3 linked regions of the Homo sapiens genome follow. The main gene of each other region encodes a partner of the protein of the gene in region 2 in a complex. Each region holds a gene or a part of one and is shown on either strand. Other genes may lie near its edges. A codon is read from its position in the direction of its gene.

The links. The genes of interacting proteins can lie anywhere in the genome.
Region 1: the proteins of MCM2 (region 2) and SUPT16H are in contact, whole or in part, in a crystal structure (PDB 8YJF), measured with the Homo sapiens proteins. Residues at the interface, in NP_004517.2 of Homo sapiens: Ile73, Gly74, Asp75, Met77, Tyr81; in NP_009123.1 of Homo sapiens: Gln898, Ser899, Leu900, Asn901, Lys904.
Region 3: the proteins of MCM2 (region 2) and DNAJC9 are in contact, whole or in part, in a crystal structure (PDB 7CJ0), measured with the Homo sapiens proteins. Residues at the interface, in NP_004517.2 of Homo sapiens: Glu65, Glu66, Glu67, Asp68, Glu104; in NP_056005.1 of Homo sapiens: Lys185 (codon at 1,690), Arg189 (codon at 1,678), Arg192 (codon at 1,669), Lys244.

What each region holds. Positions count from the first base shown.
Region 1 is NC_000014.9:21,381,020-21,387,942, forward strand, and holds the start of SUPT16H (FACT complex subunit SPT16), read right to left. Parts: upstream 3,001-6,923; 5' UTR 2,909-3,000; coding exon 2,843-2,908; intron 1-2,842. Other genes in the region: CHD8 (chromodomain-helicase-DNA-binding protein 8), read right to left, coding at 4,594-5,157. UniProt on the Homo sapiens protein: Component of the FACT complex, a general chromatin factor that acts to reorganize nucleosomes. The FACT complex is involved in multiple processes that require DNA as a template such as mRNA elongation, DNA replication and DNA repair.
Region 2 is NC_000003.12:127,614,992-127,622,779, reverse strand, and holds the end of MCM2 (DNA replication licensing factor MCM2), read right to left. Parts: intron 6,919-7,788; coding exon 6,825-6,918; intron 5,913-6,824; coding exon 5,662-5,912; intron 5,502-5,661; coding exon 5,375-5,501; intron 4,812-5,374; coding exon 4,699-4,811; intron 3,754-4,698; coding exon 3,502-3,753; intron 2,083-3,501; coding exon 1,900-2,082; intron 1,708-1,899; coding exon 1,552-1,707; intron 1,118-1,551; coding exon 1,007-1,117; 3' UTR 344-1,006; downstream 1-343. UniProt on the Homo sapiens protein: Acts as a component of the MCM2-7 complex (MCM complex) which is the replicative helicase essential for 'once per cell cycle' DNA replication initiation and elongation in eukaryotic cells.
Region 3 is NC_000010.11:73,244,256-73,251,310, forward strand, and holds the start of DNAJC9 (dnaJ homolog subfamily C member 9), read right to left. Parts: upstream 3,001-7,055; 5' UTR 2,935-3,000; coding exon 2,755-2,934; intron 2,574-2,754; coding exon 2,433-2,573; intron 1,922-2,432; coding exon 1,667-1,921; intron 250-1,666; exon of another isoform or gene 1-249. Other genes in the region: MRPS16 (small ribosomal subunit protein bS16m), read right to left, coding at 6,597-6,736.

The sequences.
Region 1 (6,923 bases), on a different chromosome or scaffold from region 2:
GAGAAGGTGCTGCAAATCCTTTCTGCTCTTAGCAGCTCTCACTTAAAACATAAGAGGCAAGACTGGATCTAGACTCAAACCTCCAGGAGTCATAAAACAATAGTACGTTCTAAGGTCTCCTGTTGATTTTTGACTGACTCCATTTTCCCATCTCTAAAATGACACGATTTACTTAGATACAGGGCTTAATATTTTTGAAATTTCTATTCAGTTAAAAGTACATGGTAACTACAATTGTTTTTAGGACATAAGTTATGAAAATTATAATTAAAAAATATTTTATTTGCAATAGCCTCAAAATATGTACCTAACTGAAAATTAACTTGCAGATAGGTAAGGTTAATTCCTATTCTTATTTTTAAAAAAGGGAAGAAAAAGCTTAGTAGCCTATCAGTTCTCTACAACCCTGTGTACTTGTATTTGGACTGCTGGAACTACCAGGTTCAACCACTACAGCTTTTAAGGGCTTATAATCAAGAGTATTTAAAATTAAAAGTGGGTTTGGAGCCCAAATCATTTTTTAGTTAATTTTAGTCATAACAGTTTTTTTTTTTAAGATGGAAGCTGAAAGCAAAAGGCTTGGGATTTATTTTTTTTTTTTTTAATTTATTTTTTAAAGACGGGGTCTCATCCAGGCTGGAGTGCAGTGATGCGATTACAGCTCACTGCAGCCTCAAACTCCTGGGCTCAAGGGATCCTTCTGCCTCAGCATCACAAGTAGCTAGGACTATAGGCACACACCACCATGCCTGGTTAATTTATTTGCCTTTTTTTTTTTTTTGTAGAGACGGGGGTCTCATCATCTTGCCCAGGCTGGTCTTTAACTCCTGGCCTCATGTGCTGGGTACAGGCATGAGTCACGGTGCCCAGCCAGGTTTGGAATTTTTACCATTAACTTCAACTTATTCTATTTCAATCCCAGTTTTCTTATTAAAAAAAGGAAAAGGTGTAAAAGAGAAAAGTTATACAACACACCTATATATCCCACTATCTTTCTGCTATATCCAGGAGGATAAGCGACTAGATTTAACCCAGAAAACTACTATCTCTGATTAAGTGTATCAGAATGAAAGCACTGTAGGGTGAAAAGACTGCATACACAAAGAACTTCTACAGGTGGGTTCTGGACACATTAACACAAAAGCAGAAAGTCTTATTCAAGTAAGTTTTTCATAATAGCCACAGGTTTTGTTAACTGGTACATTTTTACATAGATTTGGCTCATAACTTTACACCATCAGTGTCTTATCAATATCTAACATTCTCCCAAGATGATGTCATTAAGGTAGTAAGAGGGCCAAGATAAACTTTAAAGATTTTTGAGATACAAAAAAAAATGGTGGGTGGGAAATAACTTTCATGGATTTAAAGACTATCAGTTTTATTAGGTTTGCCAACCTGTCTTCAGGCCACAGTTAATTTGTCATGTAGAGGAAGTGAGAGCTATAGATTAGTTTTCATGAATGGTATAGAGAGAATGAAATTATTTGATGAATCTGAATCACTGGGACTAGAAACAATTTTCATACCAAAGGTTCACAGTTTCAGGGTTTATGGGTACAAGAGAGGGCTTCGGATTTTTAGTACTTACTGATCATTAGAAAGTATCAAGGTTTTAAAATGTTTTTCTAACATCGATTATGTTTGAATAATATGACACTGAGAGAAGCTGCAAAAAATCATTTGGTAGAAATTAATCAAAAAATTAAAAAAAATAAAATGTTCAGTATTCATCTAGCATTTAGTTCTTATTTTTCCTTTTCATAAAATGCAAGAGAATCAATTTTATTTTCAATTATCTAATGTATTTAGCCCCAAAAGATGAAACATGCACAGACAGCTTTAATATGAATGGCAAGGAAACGACCAATTTTAATGGCTTGGTTTTAGTAGATGACCAGTTTGAAAGATAATTTACAATGCTGAAATGAGAGCTGATCATTTTTCTCAAAACGTTTTTCAGGTTAAAAAAAAATCTTTATTAGCTGTATCTTCCCTTGATGACAGGGTTCAGGGGCAAGACTTAAGCTAGCCAACTCAGACTGCATCACAGAATGCAACCAAATGTTTGCTCAATTAGTAAGTTAACATCATAAAAATAAGTTTTAACTGTGGACGTTTTTAGAGCAGCAAAACTGCCGAATCTTTAAAAAACTGGGAACTGCCACAGCTCTTTTAATGAACACGTGCCCCGGATACGCTACCAAGGAACTAATAAGGTTTTAGGCATCGTTTTGTTTTGTTTTGTTATTACTAATGCCTGCAGGCTTTCAGCGTTAGGTCCCTCTCTGTAACCCACAGCAGGGCCTAGAACATGAGGCGGTTGCGCGTGAGCAGTATTTCTTTTTTTAACTCCAGCAAAAGCCCCGCAAACGATAAACGCTAAAAGCCCGATTGACATCCTCCTTGCCCTTCCATCTCTCCTTTACGAAGACGGTTATAATCCTGGCGGGACCAGGGGTGGAATATTGTGGTTCTGGAGGGACAGAGCGAGTGCGTGAGAACACGGCAGGGGAGGGCAGCAAGACGTGACCACGGAGTAGGAGGGAAGGATGTTGCCTCTTCTAGGGCGGGAAGAGACTGCGAGAGGTGCTGCTATGCATGACCAAGGCTGGCACGCGGGGAAGATGGTGATGGCCGCAGGACAGGGTGAATGCGGGGGATTCCCTGTTAAGGGGCAGCGTTCGTGGCCGCCTCCGGTGAATGATTCGGGAGCAACGAAAAGGGTGAGGCACAGAACCCGGGAATTCCTGACCGAAAGAGAAAAAAGGGCGCCGAGAAACAGGGTTATTATGGGATGGCTAAGGGGGCTCCCTAGGAAAAATTACAGGATCTTCCTCACCCGCCAATTGCTGTACAGTCTCTTCACTCGCCGATAATAAGCGTCTTTGTCCAGAGTCACAGCCATAGCCCCGGACGCCGCTTCTCCTCGGGTTCCGAGAATCACGCGAGGTCCCGGCTCAGCCACCCGCTCTCGGCCCAGGAATCCCGCACTCTCCCAATGACCCGGAAGTATCGACCTCAAAGATGCCCTTTCCGCTTCCGGGTCCCAACAGCGTTAGGTTTTTTTTTTGTTTGTTTGTTTGTTTTGTTTTTTTCCAACCCTCTTTCGGATGGACGGGGGAAAGAGAGAAAGAAAAACGAGGGAAAATCAACAAAATGTGCGATGCAAAGAGTCGATTTTCGCGGGGTTTGTCAACTTCGCCACTGCCGCACGCGAATCGACGTCGTCACGTGACGGTCTGCCTCCGCCCTTATTAACTCTCAGCCCAGCGGCGGTTTCCAGGACCTCAGACTTTTTGCCGAGGCGGCAGTCCCTAGACGAAGCGAAGGAGGCGGCGCCTGCCCCGCCCACAAGAGCTGCCGCGCGCGGGTGTTATAGCTCCACCCCATCTGCAAAGGAAGGGGGAGCGGAAAGAGCGGGATCTAGCGTGGGATAAAAGTGGGACTACTACAGTGTAACTGGGCATGCGCCCCTCCTAGAAATGATGGGAATGCAAAAGCCCTTGACTGCTCCAGGACTCGAGGGATCCTCGGTGCCAGGATGCTGGGTCAAGCGCTCCGCCGGGACAGAGGACTCATACCAGGGAAATGGAGCCCAGCCTCGTGATAAACTACGACCCAAGCTGGGGGAGGAACCTAGTTTTCGAAAGGAAAATAATATGCGCAAGCTTTAACTGAGCAGTGGGATGGTGTAAGTCAGAGGAAACAGATGACTTGAGGGGCTCTACAAACTTTTAGTTCCTTCCCACAACCCCACCCCCTGAGCCCAAGTCGCGGCAGCATCCTTCCAGTCGGCCAGTCCCCTTGCTGCAGTTCATGAAAACTGGCACTATTCTATGGCTTCCCCCAAATAACCGTTACTTCAGTTAATTAGAAACAAAACATAAATGGTTCCTGATGACATTCTTGCTCCCTGTCTCTTCTAAAAACTTGGAGTTTGAATCCAGAAGTTTGCCTACCTACCATTTACCTTAAATAATTCCCTTGCCTTTAGCCAGCTGGACAGTCTACATTTGTATATACCCTTTAGAGGAGTACAGATGACTTGTCTGCTGTAAGGCAATTTAGTATAAACAGTATTGAACTTAAGGAAAGTGGTGCTGAAATTACCCACCATTAACAACTCAAAATCAATACACTGGGTTTGAGCAAACATAGAACAAAGGAAGAGTGGAAAAGGATTAACTTAAATTTATTAATGCCAAGGGGAAAGAAGGTAACAGTTCCTGACCCTCCAGCTGTATCCACAGTTCGGCCAGGAACAGGCTCTGCCAGAGGCTAGGGCCAGCGCTACATAGTCTGTGGTTAATGGAGGTGACTAGGGAGGGGTGAGCACACCAGCTGCTCTAGTCTCCTTTCCTTCCCCAGAAATGAGGAAGTGGTCATGTATTATTTTAGGAGTTCCCCTGCCCACCCAATCCTCTCATAATTGGGAGCAATCAGGTACATTTTTTTTTTTTTTTCCTTTTCACCTCCTGGAGTCCTGGACTTCCCCACATCTCCCCTGCCCCTCCCACGTTTCCATAGTCCAAGGGCCAGAGTAAATGAAAATACAGCAGCCGCCCAAGCAATGGGGCCCATGCTGGGGCTTCAGTCATCAGCATCTTCACTGGAGTCTGAGTTAGCTGGCATCATAGGATCATCAATGAGTGAGAAGTCCCTTTCTGAGCTATCATAGCCCTGAGATAAGTCATCATCATCTTCTTCATCCTCATCGTCATCCTCCTCAGGTTGCAGTGGTGGCAACCGCAAGGTAGTACCAGAGGCGGTAGTCACTGGTGAAGAGGGGTAGCCAGGGGCTCTCAAGCCTGGATGGTGATGGTGGTGATGGTGGGGGTGGGGGTGGTGGTGGTGGTGATGAAGCATGGTGCTGGAGTCTACATGAGGGGATGATGGTGCACCACCCATCACAAATGGCATAAAAGGCAAAGATGCAGAAGTGGCACTGCTGTGACCCAAAGATGACACAGACTGTAGGCCACTACTGCTGTGTTGGAACGTGTTATGCAGAGATAGAGACCCAGTGCTTCCACCCTGCATGAGGGCCATCATCTTAGAAAGGTCTGGTCGCATCCTACGGGCCCGCTTCTTGCTGCTCTCTGGTGCAATAGGCCCTGGCAAAACCCGGTTGAACACCGTTTCAGTGTGATGACCCTAGGAGGAGGGAATAGAAGATAATAAAAAGAAAGAAAGGGGAAAAAAGAAAAGAAACCAAAGCCAACAGAGTCCTAGCTTACAATGCTTTTTTACTGAATGTACCTTAGAAGAGGCAAAACAAGCACAGCGATACTAGGCTTGATTGGTGGTAATGGGAAGGAGGAAATGCTGGACTTAGCTGGTTGAAACATTCTGATACTAAAGTTAAGATCAATGATTTTGTACCGAAACTCATATTAACCAGTTTTTGCTTCTTTTCCCCATGACTATATTGTATCTTTACTTTAGTCAACCATTTCACAAATGCTTACCTTTGTTAAGAAGGGGTCTGGGTAAGACAATGAATTAGTAAATGCACATAAAAAAAATCACTTGTGACCGGGCGCGGTGGCTCACGCCTGTAATCCCAGCACTTTGGGAGGCCGAGGCGGGGGAATCACAAGGTCAGGAGATCGAGACCATCCTGGCTAACACGGTGAAACCCGGTCTCTACTAAAAATGCAAAAAATTAGCTGGGCAAGGTGGCGGGCGCCTGTAGTCCCACAGCTACTCGGGAGGCTGAGGCAGGAGAATGGTGTGAACCCGGGAGGCAGAGCTTGCAGTGAGCCGAGATCGCGCCACTGCACTCCAGCCTGAGCGACAGCGAGACTCCGTCTCAAAAAAAAAAAAAAAATCACTCGTGTCTCCTGATGGCAAGTTGTTCACTTGTTCTTACTATGTGAATTGACATTTACAATAATATCCTCTATTAGCACATCAAAGCAGGGTAAATTCAAGACAGATCAGATAAAGATTTCTACATGTCTAGAACACCAAAAAACTGTCAGAAACTCCTCACTAAATTTAATAAAATAATTTTTGTTCCACATTGATAAAAAACTTACATATCTGAATTTTAAATGGCTTCTTCTAGATGTTCTGACTAAAAATTCTGATTAAGTTCATTGAAGATAGAAGTTATTCCTGCAGGTCCCAAGAATAACGTAGTGCTAGATTCACTGTCAATTCTATATTAAGAATTCTGGGCCAGGCGTGGTGGCTCATGCCTGTAATCCCAGCACTTTGGGAGGCTGAGGCAGGTGGATCACTTGAGGTTAGGAGTTCAAGACCACCCTGGCCAACATAGCGAAACTCTGTCCCTACTAAAAATACCAAAATTAGCCGGGAGTCAGCCAGGCGTGGTGGCTCACGCCTGTAATCCCAGCACTTTGGGAGGCTGAGGGCAGGCGGATCACCTGAGGTTGGGAGTTCGAGACCAGCCTGACCAACATGGAGAAACCCCATCTCTACTAAAAGTACAACAAATTAGCTGGGCGTGGTGCCGCATGCCTGTAATCCCAGCTACTGGGGAGGCTGAGGCAGAAAAATCGCTTGAACCCAGGAGGCGGAGATCGCGGTGAGCAGAGATCACGGCATTGTACTCCATCCAGCCTGGACAACAAGAGTGAAACTCTGTATCAAAAAAAAAAAAAAAAAAAAAGCTGGGTGTGGTCGTGCATGGCTGCAATCCCAGTTACTCAGGAGGCTGAGGCAGGAGAATCACTTGAACCCAGGAGGCGGAGGTTGCAGTGAGCTGAGATCATGCCACTGCACTCCAGCCTGGGTTACAGAACGAGACTCTGTCTCAAGCAAAAAAAAAAAAAAAAAAAAGAATTCTGTACTAGTCATATTAGGATTTTCTGTGATTTTCTATGATATTTCTTAAGAGTTTCAGTTGACTATAAGGGAGTAGCAGAAGTACTTGAGGTAAAAATAGGTAACAG
Region 2 (7,788 bases):
CAGCCCATCAGCTGAGGCTGATGAGGTCCCTCCGGCACCTCATCTCTGGGTGAGGTGGTGGATGGTACTGCCCCACTGTGGGGTAGGCTACACCACCTCTAGTCCTATACACGTCTAACTAGGATTTCCATGGATTCCACTTAGATATCACAGAGGCAGTGACTGCAAACCAAGTTCAATGGGGATATCTATATCATTTTTGCTTTCTCTACATCCACAAACAAAACAGCTTTTTTAACCCGACCTACCTCCTACAGAACTCTGAACGGAGAAGGTGGAAAGGGCCTTCAGCGGAAGTCCAGGTTACTTACTAAAGCGGAATGGAAGCCAACAGATACCAGCGTTTATATTTTATTCAACTTTATTAAAAATTAAAACTACAGAAACCAAACCGAATGCACAAATAAGAGAGTGGGGAAACAGACAGGGAGCAATGGCAGCTGATAACTGTGGCGAGTGGATAATCCGCATGACTCACATCCCACCCCTGCGACTGAGGAGCCCAGAACGCTGCGCTGGCACTGTCGTGCCCTCTTCCACCACAGGGGCACAGAAACCTGCAGGAGACTGAAAACGATTACAAACATCTTCAACCAGCTCTCTGGCCAAAGGCAGCAAAAGCAGCCTGAATACGCAACTCACGCCAAGAGGGCAGCAGCTCTCCTGACATCCATGTAAGAAGGCTAACACCTAAACCACACGCAGGCATCCTGAACTCAGCAGCTCTGATCCAAGGTACTGAGTGGAGACAAAGCACTCGGAGGTGGCAAGATGTTCAGCAACCAAGTAAGACACACTGGCAAGGCATCCCACCCAAAGGTGAGAAGCACAAAGCAGGCTTGGAGAAACAAACAGTCATGCCAGGTGCAGCCAGACATCCTGCTATAAGCCCTGACCCTAGTACCCCGAGTTCATCAAGTGCTCTGGTTTTGTGTCCATAAAGCACAGAGGGCACTGACCACCCCAAACCAGAATCCCAAGGAATCCTTATGGATGGCATAGGGCCTCAGAACTGCTGCAGGATCATTTTCCTTTTCAGGTCGTGGCTGAACTTGTTCATCCTGAAGAGCTCACTGTCATAAAATGCAGAGAGGTTGTGGATGTTGATCTGACGAGCCTGCAAGGAGGAAGTGTCCAGTGAGCCATCAGTGGTGTGAGAACAGGCTGTTTCCAGAGCGCCCCAGTTACAGTGCACTTTCAGACACCATCACCTCCATTTATGGGAGGAAAATATCCAGGGGTGGAGAGGCCGATTAAGGGGCTTCAAATCTCTGCTGTACAAGCTGTGCGTGTAAACTGAGACAAGTTACTTGGCTGCCCTGTATCTGTCTCCACCTCTGCACAACAGGAAGGCAGTAACAGGACTCACCTCACTCCCCTGCTGTCAGACTACAGGCACAGAACTGGACTCAACAGACTGTAAGCATTCAATAAATGGCTGTCAACCAAGGCCCACCCACTTCATGACCCATTATGATGGAGCCCCCATCAGGAGACTGGCAGCTCCCAAGTCAGCATACCCCAACCCTCACCTCCCTTCCGGGCCCATACCTTATCCACCAAGTCCTTCTCAGGGACCTCAATAGTGTCCTGCTGGGCCCCAAAGCGGTTGCGCTGATATGTCACCTGCTCTGCCACTAACTGCTTCAGTATGAAGAGCAACAGCTCATTGTTGTCACGCCGGAATGAAAGGTAGCGGGCAAAAGTCTGCAGGAAAAAAGCCTCAGTCAAACACCCGCTCCCACTACGCCTGCCACACTCCCTTTACCCTACGTGCCAGCACCCAGGTCAGACAGGCTGCCGCTCCTGGGTGCACGTCCAGGCCAGAGCCCTGGATACCCACGTGTGGCCTCCTTCACTGAGCTTGCCCATCAGGCCCCTACCTCGGAGCACACCCACCTTGCGCATGCTGCGCATGACGCTGAACTTCTGTGTGTCTATGAAGCTCTCCAGCATCACGCGGATGGCCATGTTGACGTCGTCTTCGATCACATAGTCCCGCAGATGGATGCGCGCGTGGGCCTCCGCCATGCGGATCATGGACTCGATGTGCCGCACCGTAATGGGGATGCTGCCTGTCGCCTGGAGAGAAGCACAGTGTCAGGTCTTTCACGGGCAGGAAAGAGAAGCAAGGAAAATAAAGCAGCGGCACTCTTAGCACCCAGAGCCAAGAAGACCCATCTGACAGTGCCCCAGCAGAAATGCAGAATGCTTGACTGCGCTGCCCAGTGAATGCACACTTCCTATCCCTCCTGGAAATCAGAGGATGCCAGTGGATGCTGCATGCTTACGGCCTGTCACCATCACACCTGCACAGTTCTGCTCCCACCAGCTGACTTCTGTGCATCTCAGAGGCTGTTGTATTTGTGGCCAGCTGTATTGGTTATTGTCACACACTAAATATTGAATAATCCTGTACAATGTAAGTGCAAAAAAAGGTCGTTGTTTGTAGGAAAACTAAATTGAATGATCTGAAAAAACTTGGTAAAGTTAAAAGGCAGAAATTTGAAAAGCTGCTGTGTTGACTGGGTGTGGCTGAGGCAGCAATCTACAAGGACTCGGCATTCCCATGGCTTGCAAGCTGCTTTAAGTTTCCATTCCACTATGAATGAGCCAAAGACCTTGTGTTCATTAGAGTGAAATTTACACAAAGTCAATATGGAACTTAATAAGCACATCAACAATTAAGGCCTTGGCCCTACACTGAGACAAATGAATGCACATTTAAATTTCATCTAAAACAAAATGGTTAAGGTATATATTAATACCTATCATTTAAAAAAATATTTTTTTTTTGAAACAGGGTTTCACTGTGTCACCAAGGCTAGAGTGCAGTGGTGCCATCATAGCTCACTGTAGCCTCGAACTCCTGGGCTCAAGTAGATCTTCCTTCCTTAGCTTCCTGAGTAGCTGGGACTACAGGCACAAACCACCAGGCCCAGCTAAGTTTCAAAACATTTTTTGTAGAGAAAGGGCCTCACTATGTTGCCCAGCCTGGTCTTGAACTCACCTCAAGCAATCTTCCTGCCTTGGCCTCCCAAAGTGCTGGGATTACAGGCATGAATCACTGTACCCAACTTTCATTTTTTGTTTTTGTTTTTGAGATGGAGTCTCACTCTGTCACCCAGGCTGGAGTGCAGTGGTGCGATCTCAGCTCACTGCACCCTCCGCCTCCCGGGTTCAAGCGATTCTCCTGCCTCAGCCTCCTGAGAAGCTGGGATTACAGGCATGTGCCACCACACCCGGCTAATTTTTGGGTTTCACCATGTTGGTCAGGCTGGTCTCAAACTCCTGACATCGTGATCCTCCTGCCTCGGCCTCCCAAAGTACTGGGATTACAGGCGTGAGCCACTGTGCCTGGCACCTACATTTTTTTTTTAATGCCTCCCTGCTCTGGCACCTTTTGGCCTGACTGACCACCACCCCCGCTGCATTGGTCAGAAGGCTCACACTGCACTTCCTTCTCTGCATAGCACCTCCCGGCTCTGCCTGGGCTCTCACCATAGATTCTTTCCTCAGGTCACTGTACATCTTGGCCACCTTGTCCTGGTCCATCTGGTTGAGCTTCGGGTGGACCCTCTCCTTGGCGTAGATGATGTACTTCTTCAGGACCTCCTGGGGCAGGGGCTCCACGCCATACGTGTTGGGCATGGCGGGCTCAGCAGCGCTGCCATTGGCCAGCCCCTCCTCCTCCTTGTTGCTGGGGTGGTGTCTGACGTGGCTGCCCACCACGAAGCGGGCCAGCATCTCGTCCTAAGATAAGCCATGAGAGGGTGGGTCTGATTGTGGGTGTGCGTGGCTTTGGGGAGGTCAGTGGCTGGAGAAGGGCTGAGTGTGCCCTACAAGGGTGACACTCTTTCAACAAGACTGACTACACTGACCATGTGCCAGGCAGTTCTGGGTGTGGGTGGCAAACCAGACAATGGGACAGAGTCCCCACAGGGCTCATCTCCACAAGGGGACAGGAGACAAATAGTCTTAAAAATTAATTATGGAAAGTAATGCTCAGAAGAAAAATAGAGTGATAGGATCAAGGGACCAAGGAGATGCCTCTAGCTAAGGGTGCCCGGCAAAGCCCCTCCCTGAAAGACAGGGAGCTGAGATGACGACAATGAGATGCAAGTCATGTGACAGTGTGGGAGAGCGTCTGCCAGGAGCAAGGAGCACAATCAAGCCCCAAGGCTCGGCCCTTTTGAGAGAGAAGGGCAGGTGCAGGTGCAGGTGAGGGAAGGGAGCGAGGAGGAGGTAGCTGCAGAGATGGCGGGTGCGGGCCGGAGGGGAGGACCCTGGATTCTATTCTGATGACAGCAGAAAGCCTCAAGCAGTTGTTAAGGACGGGGCTGATCTGATTTATGCCTTCAACTGGAAGACAGTCTACATGGGTGCCAGGAGGCCAGTTCAGATGATGGTAGTGCCTCAAGTCAGAGGCAGAAGTGAGGGAGGTGGGTAGGCTCAGGAGTTGGGACAACAGGATTTGGTGGATTGTGGGTTATGTAGGGTGGGGGTCGGGGGTGCTGTGAAGGAAAGAGAAATCAGGGCGACTTCTGGACATGAGAAGAGACCGAGGGAACAGGACTAGAAAACAGCCTATGGCCCCTGCAGCACCTGTCCCCTGTGTTGGGCACACTGTATGACCCCAAGCCTCACCTGAGGTCCCCAAACCACAGTTCATGGAAACCGGGCACATGTGAGCTATACCTGGACTGGGTCCACGGTGTCCCTCACCACACACAGGATGTCAAAGCGTGAGATGATGGGCTCTGTGAGGTCCACGTTCTCAGAGAAAGTCAGCGAGGGGTCGTAGCGCCCTCCTGAAACACAGGGGAGCACCTCCATCAGGGTGGATTCCCCTATCCTCCCATCTCAGGGACCCCAGGCTGCTCTGATGGCAGAAGGGGATGAGGGCAGTGGAAGAGGAAGACATAGGTGGGTACTTAGCACCTGCTGTCTGAGACAGCAAAGAGCTTACCCTAACCAGGGCCCAAAATAGCCTAATTTAGACAGAAAGCATAACTGCTTCCCCAGGAGGAAAAACCAAGAACACAGTGGGTGACAGAGCCTGGGTTCTTTTACGCATTCGCTGCTGAGACCAACAGCCAACTCCATCCTGGCCAGAGGGGCACTGGGCTCTCCTCCCATGCCTTCTGAGAACATCCAAGGTGATTCCAGGAACATGACTCAACAGGAAACCCAGGTGTCCCAGGTCCCACTTTCACTGTTCCCCACTCTGGCAGGATATGCAGAAGAGGGGAACCCTCTGCTGCACAATGACTTCCTCAGATCGGCTCCTGGGGACCCCGTGGGCTCCCAATTCAAGCAGGCGGGACCTCCCTGTGTCCCACCCCAGCCCCAGCAGTCAGGGTGCCTGCTGCACCTATGGGGTTGGCGGCAGCAATGACCGTGCAGCGAGCCTGCAGGGAGGTGACGATGCCAGCCTTCGAGATGGAGATGCTCTGTTGCTCCATGGCCTCATGGATGCTGGTTCTGTCCTGGTCATTCATCTGCAAGATTAAAATGGCCCACCCTTAGCATGGTTCACGCCCCTACTACTAAGTCTCCGATGAGGTCCCAATGGACCCCATTAACACCATTCCCGTCGCTAAGGCCCAAGCCCACACACACCCCCTGAGTTCCACCAGCCTCCGTGACCCAGGGACCCACCTTGTCAAATTCATCAATGAGACACACTCCTCGGTCAGCCAGAACCAGGGCCCCAGCCTCCAAGGTCCACTCCCTGCTGACAGGGTGCCGCTGGACATACGCCGTGAGGCCCACAGCCGACGCCCCCTGGCCAGTGGTGAAGATGGCTCGGCTGGACACTTTCTCAATATACTTGAGAAACTGCGACTTCGCTGTGCCAGGGTCTCCGCACAAGAGCACGTTGATATCACCACGTACCTTGTGCTTGCCACCTGGAGGGGATGAGTAGAAGCGGGGGAGGGGGAGAGTGGGAAGTGAGAGGAGGAGGGCACAGTTGCATCCCCCACCAATTCCTCAACCTACTTGTTAGGAATGGTAAGGCACAGTCCCTCTAGAAAGGGATACAATGCCCTACGCCATGCAGTCCCACTCTGGGCACTCCCAGGGAAACACACACGGGTGCAGAGGAGGGTTGCACGAGATGTCCTTGGCGAATGTGAAATATCAGAAACAATCTAAGTGTTCTCCAAAGGGAGAGCTAAATAAACTGCGTTATCTGGTGGCATGATAGTCATTTAAAAGAAGGCAATTGCTCTGTATGCACTAACAAGAAAAGATGCTGCAGTGTGGCACTGAGCGGGAGAGCTCGGTGGGATGCACTGCGCACAGGCACAGCACTGGGCACACACAGGGGACGCTGCGCTTGTACAAATAAACACGTGTAGTCATGAAACCCTGTGGTTGCTGTGTAATTGTAAATGGCCACAAAGGGAGGGACTAGGAAGAGAAGTGGGGGTCAATGGGGAAATCAGCCTCACCCATGACTTTTAGTGTTCTATAAAAGTGTAATATAAATACAAACTCATGTGTCAATAGTATTTTTGTACTTAAAACAGGTTTTTAAAAGACAAAGTATTTTTTACATAGAAGAGAAGCAAAGACTCATTTGCTTAAATCACAAAAGCAGGCAGACACTGGCTCCCTGACCAACAGCCCAACACCCAGAATGCCCAACTCAGGGCCACCCTCTCCCTTGAAGAATGAGTCACGCCCAGCCAGACCATCTTTTAATGCATTCTTTCTCCCCAGCACCCAGGCTTTAAAAACACTGTGTCCTTCTTTGAATGCTGGCTCCCCAAAGAGAAAGCTGCTAACACCCCTGCAGAGGAAAGGTGGGTGCTCACCTGGGTTTTTGGGCTCCCCTCCGAACAGGGCCAGAGCCAGGCCTCTCTTGATGTCTTCATGACCATAGATGGAAGGAGCAATGCTGGCAAAGATCTGAGAAAGGGAGGGAGACCGACAAGAATGGGAACAGATACTCACAGAGTAGGTCACCCACATGCTCTGGCATCAGGGAACCACGACATCCCCAGCTCAAAGACACCCACTTCCACAGCTGCTGCAACTGCATCAGGCCCTGGTATCAAGCCGTGCCCGACTCTAAAGCTTTTCATTAGTTGGCTCTTCCCAAGAGTCACAGAACTTTGGAGTTTAGAAGAACCTTCATCTGAACCCCTAATCTTGACATATTTCAGAAAGGCCTTTCCCAAGATCACAGACCAAGAGCAGAAATAAGACCAGAACCAGGTCTGTCATGGCACTGGCCTACCTCAAGCCTCAGTTTCTTCATATGGAAAAGAGAGATGGCAACATCCAACTCACAGAAGGGTGGGTACAAATGCGACAGTTCATGCAAGTGCCTGCCTCGTCAATGCAATAAATGTGGCACATCTGGGAGATGTGTCCACCAGGAAGTAATTCCAACTAGTGAGTCACTGGAACATTTCTATTTCAGTGTGTGTGTGAGAGAAAGAAAGAGACAGGGAGAGAGCAAAATCTTCATGAATTTTAGATAGAATTAGAGACATCAAAGACATTTCTTGCTTGTAGGAGACTGCTTCCAACTCCACCTGCAGCAGAGCCATGTTTTGATAGCTTTCAGCCTTCATACCCCCCTGCACTGGCCACACCCACATCCTTCCCTCCTTGTAGGACAGACAAAGAAGCTCAGAAAGCACTGGCCCTCGCCTGGGGAGAGGGGACTAAGGCAGGAAAACCAGCCCTGAAGGTGGAGGGGAGACACCCCCATCAGGCTGCATCCTGTATGTCCTGCCTGCACCATCAAATTCATGCAGCTTTAGAGGTGTC
Region 3 (7,055 bases), on a different chromosome or scaffold from region 2:
GAGGCCAAGGTGGGAGGATCACTTGAACTCAGGAGTTCAAGACCTGCCTGGGTAACATAGTGAGACCTCAGTTCTATAAAAAAGAAAAGAAATGAGCCTGGTGTGGTGGCATGTGCTTGTAGTCCCAGCTACTAGGGAGGCTGAGGTGGGAAGATGGCTTCAGTCTGAGAGTTCAGGCTGCAATAAGCTGTGATCATGCCTCTGCACTCCAGCCTGGGTGATGGAGATGCCATCTCTTAGAAAAAAGAGAAAAAAAAAAAAAAAAGGCAAATGATGCAATTGCCAGGATACAGGTATTTCCAATTTCTCTCCTGGAAACCCAATTTACTCCATGGGACTGGTGGTGCCTTGTGAACAACCCCAGTTTAAAATGACTTCTCCCCAGTAGTCAGAAGAACCAACATCAATAAACTCAGTTTTAACATCTATTTACCTAATTTCAAAGCAGCCTTCCTTTGCCAAGTGTTCCTAGAGCATTGTTTACAAAATATCACAAGAACACCTTAGGGCAACAACTATAAGAGGCCCCAACACCCCTTGTGAATTTTCTAAGTAGCAATTAATGCTATTAATACTGAGGATGATGATACATTAGGACCCCCTATCCCAATAAGACACCGTTTCCTTGTATTCAAATTCTCTCTTTAAATTCAGCATCCCCCTAAGGTTTGTTGAACAGTCTATCAAAACTATGCCATTTTCTCCTCAAATTCTAGGGAAGTTTCTCAAGCTAACAGTCTACTGTGAATGCAGCTGTGCTCAGTTTCATCTCAGGAAATGATGAACGACTTAAGATAATTGTCAGCTTGAGTCTTAGCAGATGTAGCCTATGAACCAAAATGGTCTTGATATACACTCCACCGTTCCCCTCAAGCTCACCAGAAAGGGTGCAGCCTCTTATCTAGGCAAAACAGGCCCTTCAAATTTTCACCGGAAACAAAAAGGTCAGCTTTCTCTCTGCCAGCGTCTCTTATGTAAAAGCTGCAGAAAAGTTCCTGAGGGCACTCAGGAAGGCAGCAGTGGTCCTAAAAGTTGTGTGCTCCTTAAGAGAATCTAACGCCCGATGATCTAAGGTTTCATCCTGAACCACCCCCCCAACTCTCCTCACCCCCACTGTCACTGGAAAAACTGTCTTCCACAAAACAGGTACCTGGTATCAAAAAGGCTGGGGACCGCTAAGCTAAAGTTTTTCTTTAAAAAAAAAAAAAAGAAAAGAAAAATTCTGTATCCAACTCAAGAATCAAATTCGGGGCAAAGGCCCAAACATCTGCACTTTTAACAAGACGGTGTCTGCCATTCTCTTCTTACCCCCTCAACCGAGTAAGGATCACTGCCCATCCTGTGTACCCGGGTTCCACTAACTTTATCTCCTGAGGAATGCCTCAGGAATGCTACAAGAATTGGCCTACATGAAAAAATATTTCAGTGCTACTTTACTATGGTAATATTTAAACAATCTATGCAATAAAAATCATCTTGAGCACAACATGCTAGAAAAAGTTTCTCTTGATGAACTGGTATGCCCATTTTATTAGATCGAAACTATAGACCAAGTTAACCCTAGTCCTTATTTCTGGAGTTTTATGTTTACTTCTACTGCTGTAAATACTCTCAAATCCTTTTTGGAAGCAGTCAAAATATAAATCCACAGTATTCAAAATCTTACCCTCCTTTTCCTTGCATTCATCTTTTGTTTCGATTCTTTGACAAAGGCATTATAGGATGGGACCTCTCCGGCGTCAATAGCTTGCTGAATGATATTCCTTATCCTGGGTTCCTCTGTGTACTGCACGCAAAGCACAGACTCCATGATCTGATCCATGTCACCCTTGAAGTCCAGATAGGCCTGCTTAATATCAGCCAGCTCTTCTTCCGAACCTTTGTATGTCTTTTCAAAAGCTTGAATGTCCTCTAAAGATATCTGATGATAAAGGAGATTTGCTTTAACTTTGGGAATTTTACTTTAAATAAAACGTACGTTAGTAAAACTAGAGTTGGGTGTTGAATTGCTGCAATACAACAGTTGCTTGAGTTGAAATTATTGAACCAGATTTTCTATGCCTAAGCTTCTCCGGAGTCCTCCTTTTTAAATCCAATCTTCATTAACTGCTAACTAGGGACCAGGGAAGGGAAATTTAAGTGAAATTTCCAAGAGTGAGAGGTGATCCGGAATCAGGACTTACATTTGGATATGTAAAATAAAGCGCATCCGGCAAAAAAAATAAATCGGCCCTTTTCAGTGCAACAATCACATTAACAGGAAATTTAAAGCCCGTTTCAGTAAGCGTGCGTGTATCTGTATTTCAAGGCCAAACTCAAAATTCCTAATTCCTACAAAATTAACACAAAATACAAGATCTTAGAGGCAGTCAATAAAGGTTTGTTGATTGAATGATGGTAACAGTCACAAAGAAACCTCCAGAGTCCTTTACCTTTTTAAAGAGTAGCCGCCAATACGCCTCCCAGTCTCGGTCTTGGGTGAGCACAGGAGAGTCCTCGTCCACTGTTCCCTGCTCATCGTACACTGCTCTCTGTTCTCTGTCACTGAGAACGGAATAGACTTTTCCCAGGATCTGAGGGCAAAGAGTATCCGTAAATCACCCCTGCTCCTCCCACCGAAACGGCGGCGCGAGAAATAAAGATCAGAAGGCGCCAAGCGGAGCTCAGCGCGCTCCCCCGGGGCGGGGCCCGGTAGCCAAAAGGCTAGGGGGAGGCCCGCGCAGCCGGTCGGCTTCGGGGCGGGACCCTGCATACCTGGAAGCGGCGGGTGGCGTCCTCCTTGTCGCCCTCACCCACCCGGTCCGGGTGTACCTGCAGGGACACCTTGTGGTAGCCTCGTCGGACCTCGCCGTCGGAGGCCTCGCGTCGCACGCCCAGCACCCGGTAAAGGTCGGCGGTGCCGAACACTTCCTCGCAAAGGTCCAGCAGCCCCATGCCGGGCGGAGATACGACCCCGGAGGAAGCAGCCGCTCCCAGCTGCGCCGGGTACAACCCAGGACTGCTTCTTTTTCGCGCCCAAAAAGCCCAGGGCGCCTGCGTCACAAGCACTGAAGGGGCGTGGCCACGCCGCGCATCCGCGCTTTACGGCGGCCGCAAAATGAGGTGTGGCGAGTCAGGCGCGGGCCCGGGTAAGTAACGCCGGCATGTGGAGTCACAGTCCCCGGCCGCGCGCAGGAGCTAGGTCTTCAGGGAAGTGATGTTGCTCGGGTCTCTCCTCCCCTTGCTCTGGAAATCTGGCGTCCGTCTTACCTTTTAGTGTCCAAGAACAACTTTTTCAAAAAGTTCATATATTAGCTTGAATTTACAAACTGCTGGCCTATTTTTTTAAGTAGAAAACGGCCAAACATCAGCATTCAGCAGTTACACATGGTTCAACTTAACAGATGTGTTTTTTCAAAAATGTTCTTGAAAGGAATAGGTAAAGCTGTAGACCCAAATAATTTTGCACCCCACTGGTTGGAAATGCTGGGGTACTTTCCCTCTAGCCCTGTAGGAAAAAACCCTATACTGAAACCCAAAAAGCACAAAACACGGGTCTTCCAAAAACTCTTACCTAATAGGACTTTCACCTTACACATTGGTGGAGAGAGATAACATGACCCAAGCCTCCGTCTTAATAACATAAACTGCTGAAGCAAAGGCTCTTTCTTTTAATACTCTGTGAAGTTCACAGCTGGGTTTGAACATGTTGGATCCCAGGTGGCAGCAGAGTGGGCTGGAGCAATCATCCAAGAGATGGTGAGAAACTTGGGCCTGGAGACCCAAAGCAAGGTTGAGGCTGGGGATAAAACTTTGTTAGTAGGGTAAACTCACAGAGGAAGTATGTGTATACATATCTTAAAGGATAAACAATGCTAAGTGAATACCCGAGTTGGCAGAAAATACCTTATCAAATATCCCCTCACTGATGTAGCATTTTTCAGAATCATTCTGCTCTGCCAATAAGTTTCTGCAAAGCCTCAAACTCTCCAGGATACATTAATATCTTTTAAACTTCCCAGAGTTGCCGTGATTTTCAAAGCATTTCTCTTTCCCAGATCCAAGATCAAACTCAGCTGAAGTCAGTTCCTCTCAACCTGCCCTGGCATCAAAGTCTCAAAGCAAGTGGGGGCCAACCAGCAACAACCCCAGGGGAGCTTTGACAACCACAGAATTTGAGATGGCTGGTAATCGTTCTCAGAACATAAAACACAAAGTAAGTCGGCACATTGATAGAACCTCCTCTATAAATTTCCTATATCTTAGTCACACACCAGAGTTAAGCCATCTGTCTTTGCTCATTTTTCCCTCTATGGACAACATAATATGTTGGGAAGGGCTTTCCAGGAGGGCATAACCGGGAGATGAATCTTACATCACTGGGCAAGTTTCCACCTCTAGGCCTCAGCTTCCCTATCTGTAAAACGGAGATAATCCTACCTGCCTTCATAATACCTTACAATTGTCACAAATAACCTTGTACACAAAAGGCCTAGGATATATGTAGATGCTTTGCAATATTATCTTTCTTCCAGTTTCTTGTATTTTTTAAGGTATTCAAATACATCTATTTTAACATTTTTCTATATATACATTTGCTACGGAAAATTGAAATCGCACACTGAAATATCCTTTTATTGCAACTCAAATTTTCAAAAACCAGAAAATCAAATTATTATGCTCTAGCCAAATTATGTAATGTTTTCTTTTTCTTTTCTCTGTCACCCAGGCTGGACTGTAGTGGAACAATCACAGTTCACTGCAGCATCGGCCTCCTGGGCTCAAGTGATCTTACTGCCTCAGCTTCCCGAGTAGCTGGAACTATGGGTGAGCAACACCACAGCCAGCTAATTTTTTAAGTTTTTGTAGAGACGGGGTCTTGCTGTGTTGCACAGGCTGGTCTCAAACTCTGGCTTCAAGTGATCCTTCCACCTCAGCCTCCCAAAGTGCTGAGATTACAGGTGTGAGCCACTGCCCCAATGGTATCTTTATATTATTTTTCCTTACAAGTTACTTCAAATTCTTGATGTTGAATTTCATCTCACTGACTTCAGGCTTTTAAAACACATGGGAATACTTGAGACCTAAGAATGGTTGTGAGTCAAATAAAAAAGTAGAACTAAAGTATACTGAAGTTATTCAAATACATTCAAACTATAAAGATCCCTTATAGATTACTGGCATCAAGGTAGGAAGGAAAAGATACAAGAAGTAAAATGCAACACTCATTACAGGTTGTCAACATTATTGGTATACAGTTTATCCTAACACAGAGCAGCCTTCTTAACCTGCTCCATAAAATTACCAGCAAGAAAGAAAAGTACAAGAATAAGGTTCACAGCTGAATTGGCTTGGTGTCCTAATTCCCTATTCCAGTATTCTCAGAAGGATCCCATCTATGATATATGCAGAAATCACAGCCACATTTGAATGGTTCAATCTTGATTCATACTGAACTCCCTTAAGCCCAGCAGTTTCTCATTCTTAAAAGGTAGGTTATTAGAGCCCCAAAGCAATTTTCATAACAAATCTACCTTTGTATATTTAAGAATATGCATTAAGGCTAGGAGTGGTGGCTCACGCCAGTAATCCTAGCACTTTGGGAGGCCGAGGTGGGCAGATCACAAGGTCAGATTGAGACCATCCTGGCCAACACGGTGAAACCCCATCTCTACTAAAAATACAAAAATTTGCCCGGGCGGTGGCTCACGCCTATAATCCCAGCACTTTTGGGAGGCCAAGGCGGGCGGATCACGAGGTCAGGAGATCAAAACCATCCTGGATAACATGGTGAAACCCCATCTCTACTAAAAATACAAAAAAATTAGCTGGGTGTGGTGGTGGGCACCTGTAGTCCCAGCTACTCCTGGGACTACTCGGGAGGCTGAAGCAGGAGAATGGCATGAACCCAGGAGACAGAGCTTGCAGTGAGCCGAGATCGCGCCACTGCACTCAAGCCTGGGCGACAGAGCGAGACTCCTCTCAAAAAAAAAAAAAAAATTAGCTGGGTGTGGTGGTGCATGCTTGTAGCTCCCCGGCTACTCAGGAGGCTGAGGCAGGAGAACCTCTTGAACCCAGGAGGTGGAGATTGCAGTGAGCTGAGATTGCACCACCGCACTCCAGCCTGGCAACAGAACAAGACTCCGTCTCAAAAAAAAAAAAAAAAAGAGAATATGCATTAGGCAAGACAATATAAACCTCCAATTACAAAAATCAATTAAGAAAGGTTAACTGTTCTTGCACTTGTGGGATGAACATGAAGATCTGAATGGGCCATGAATAGTCTGGCTGGGGGTTTTGAAGCAGGAAGTCTTGGAAGCCAGTAAATTGTAAAGTTGTCCAAGAGACCCAGAGCCCAACTCAAAAGTCCAATCCTCCCATAGCCACTGTCTATCCCAAGACAAAGTCGAAAAAAGCTAATTAGTACCCACACCCAGCTCTAAGTCACACAAGAACAAATCTCTCCCTGGGCCCTGTGCAGGCCAGGCCAGAAGAGCAAGGGCAACTCAGGATACTCCATTTATTGAACTCCAAATCTAACAAAATTAAGATCGCTGCAGTGTTTCAAAAGGACCTTGACCTTGTTCCCACTGCTATGCTCACTAAAGTCAGCTCATTTATGTTTCTGTAGCCTCTGTATCTGTAGCTTCTGCATCTGTTTTCTGAGAAGCTAACAGGACTTCACGTGCCCGTTTCCTTCGCAGTCTCTCAGCATTTGTGATCATCATAGGATGCAGAGGGAAAAAGCCAGCAAGACCTAAAAGTAACAGATTTTTCACTTATTATAACACAGTATAAGCCAATGCTTCCCTAGGAACTCTGTCTCACAGAACTGAGGTCTGAGATCTGACCCAGTGCATGGATGCAAACCATGCTCCTCACTTGCCAAACTCTGTACTACTTCTCCCCGGCAAGGAGACAGTGGATGTCTACTTCCCTAACAATATTCCCCTTACTTTAAAAAACGTAAACTGACAGATGGCCATTCAAAACATACTATTCCTATTTTTAGCATAAAATACCAGTCACCCAAAGTCTTACAAAGGAGTCCACAAAAGGGGCCTCCAGATTCAAAA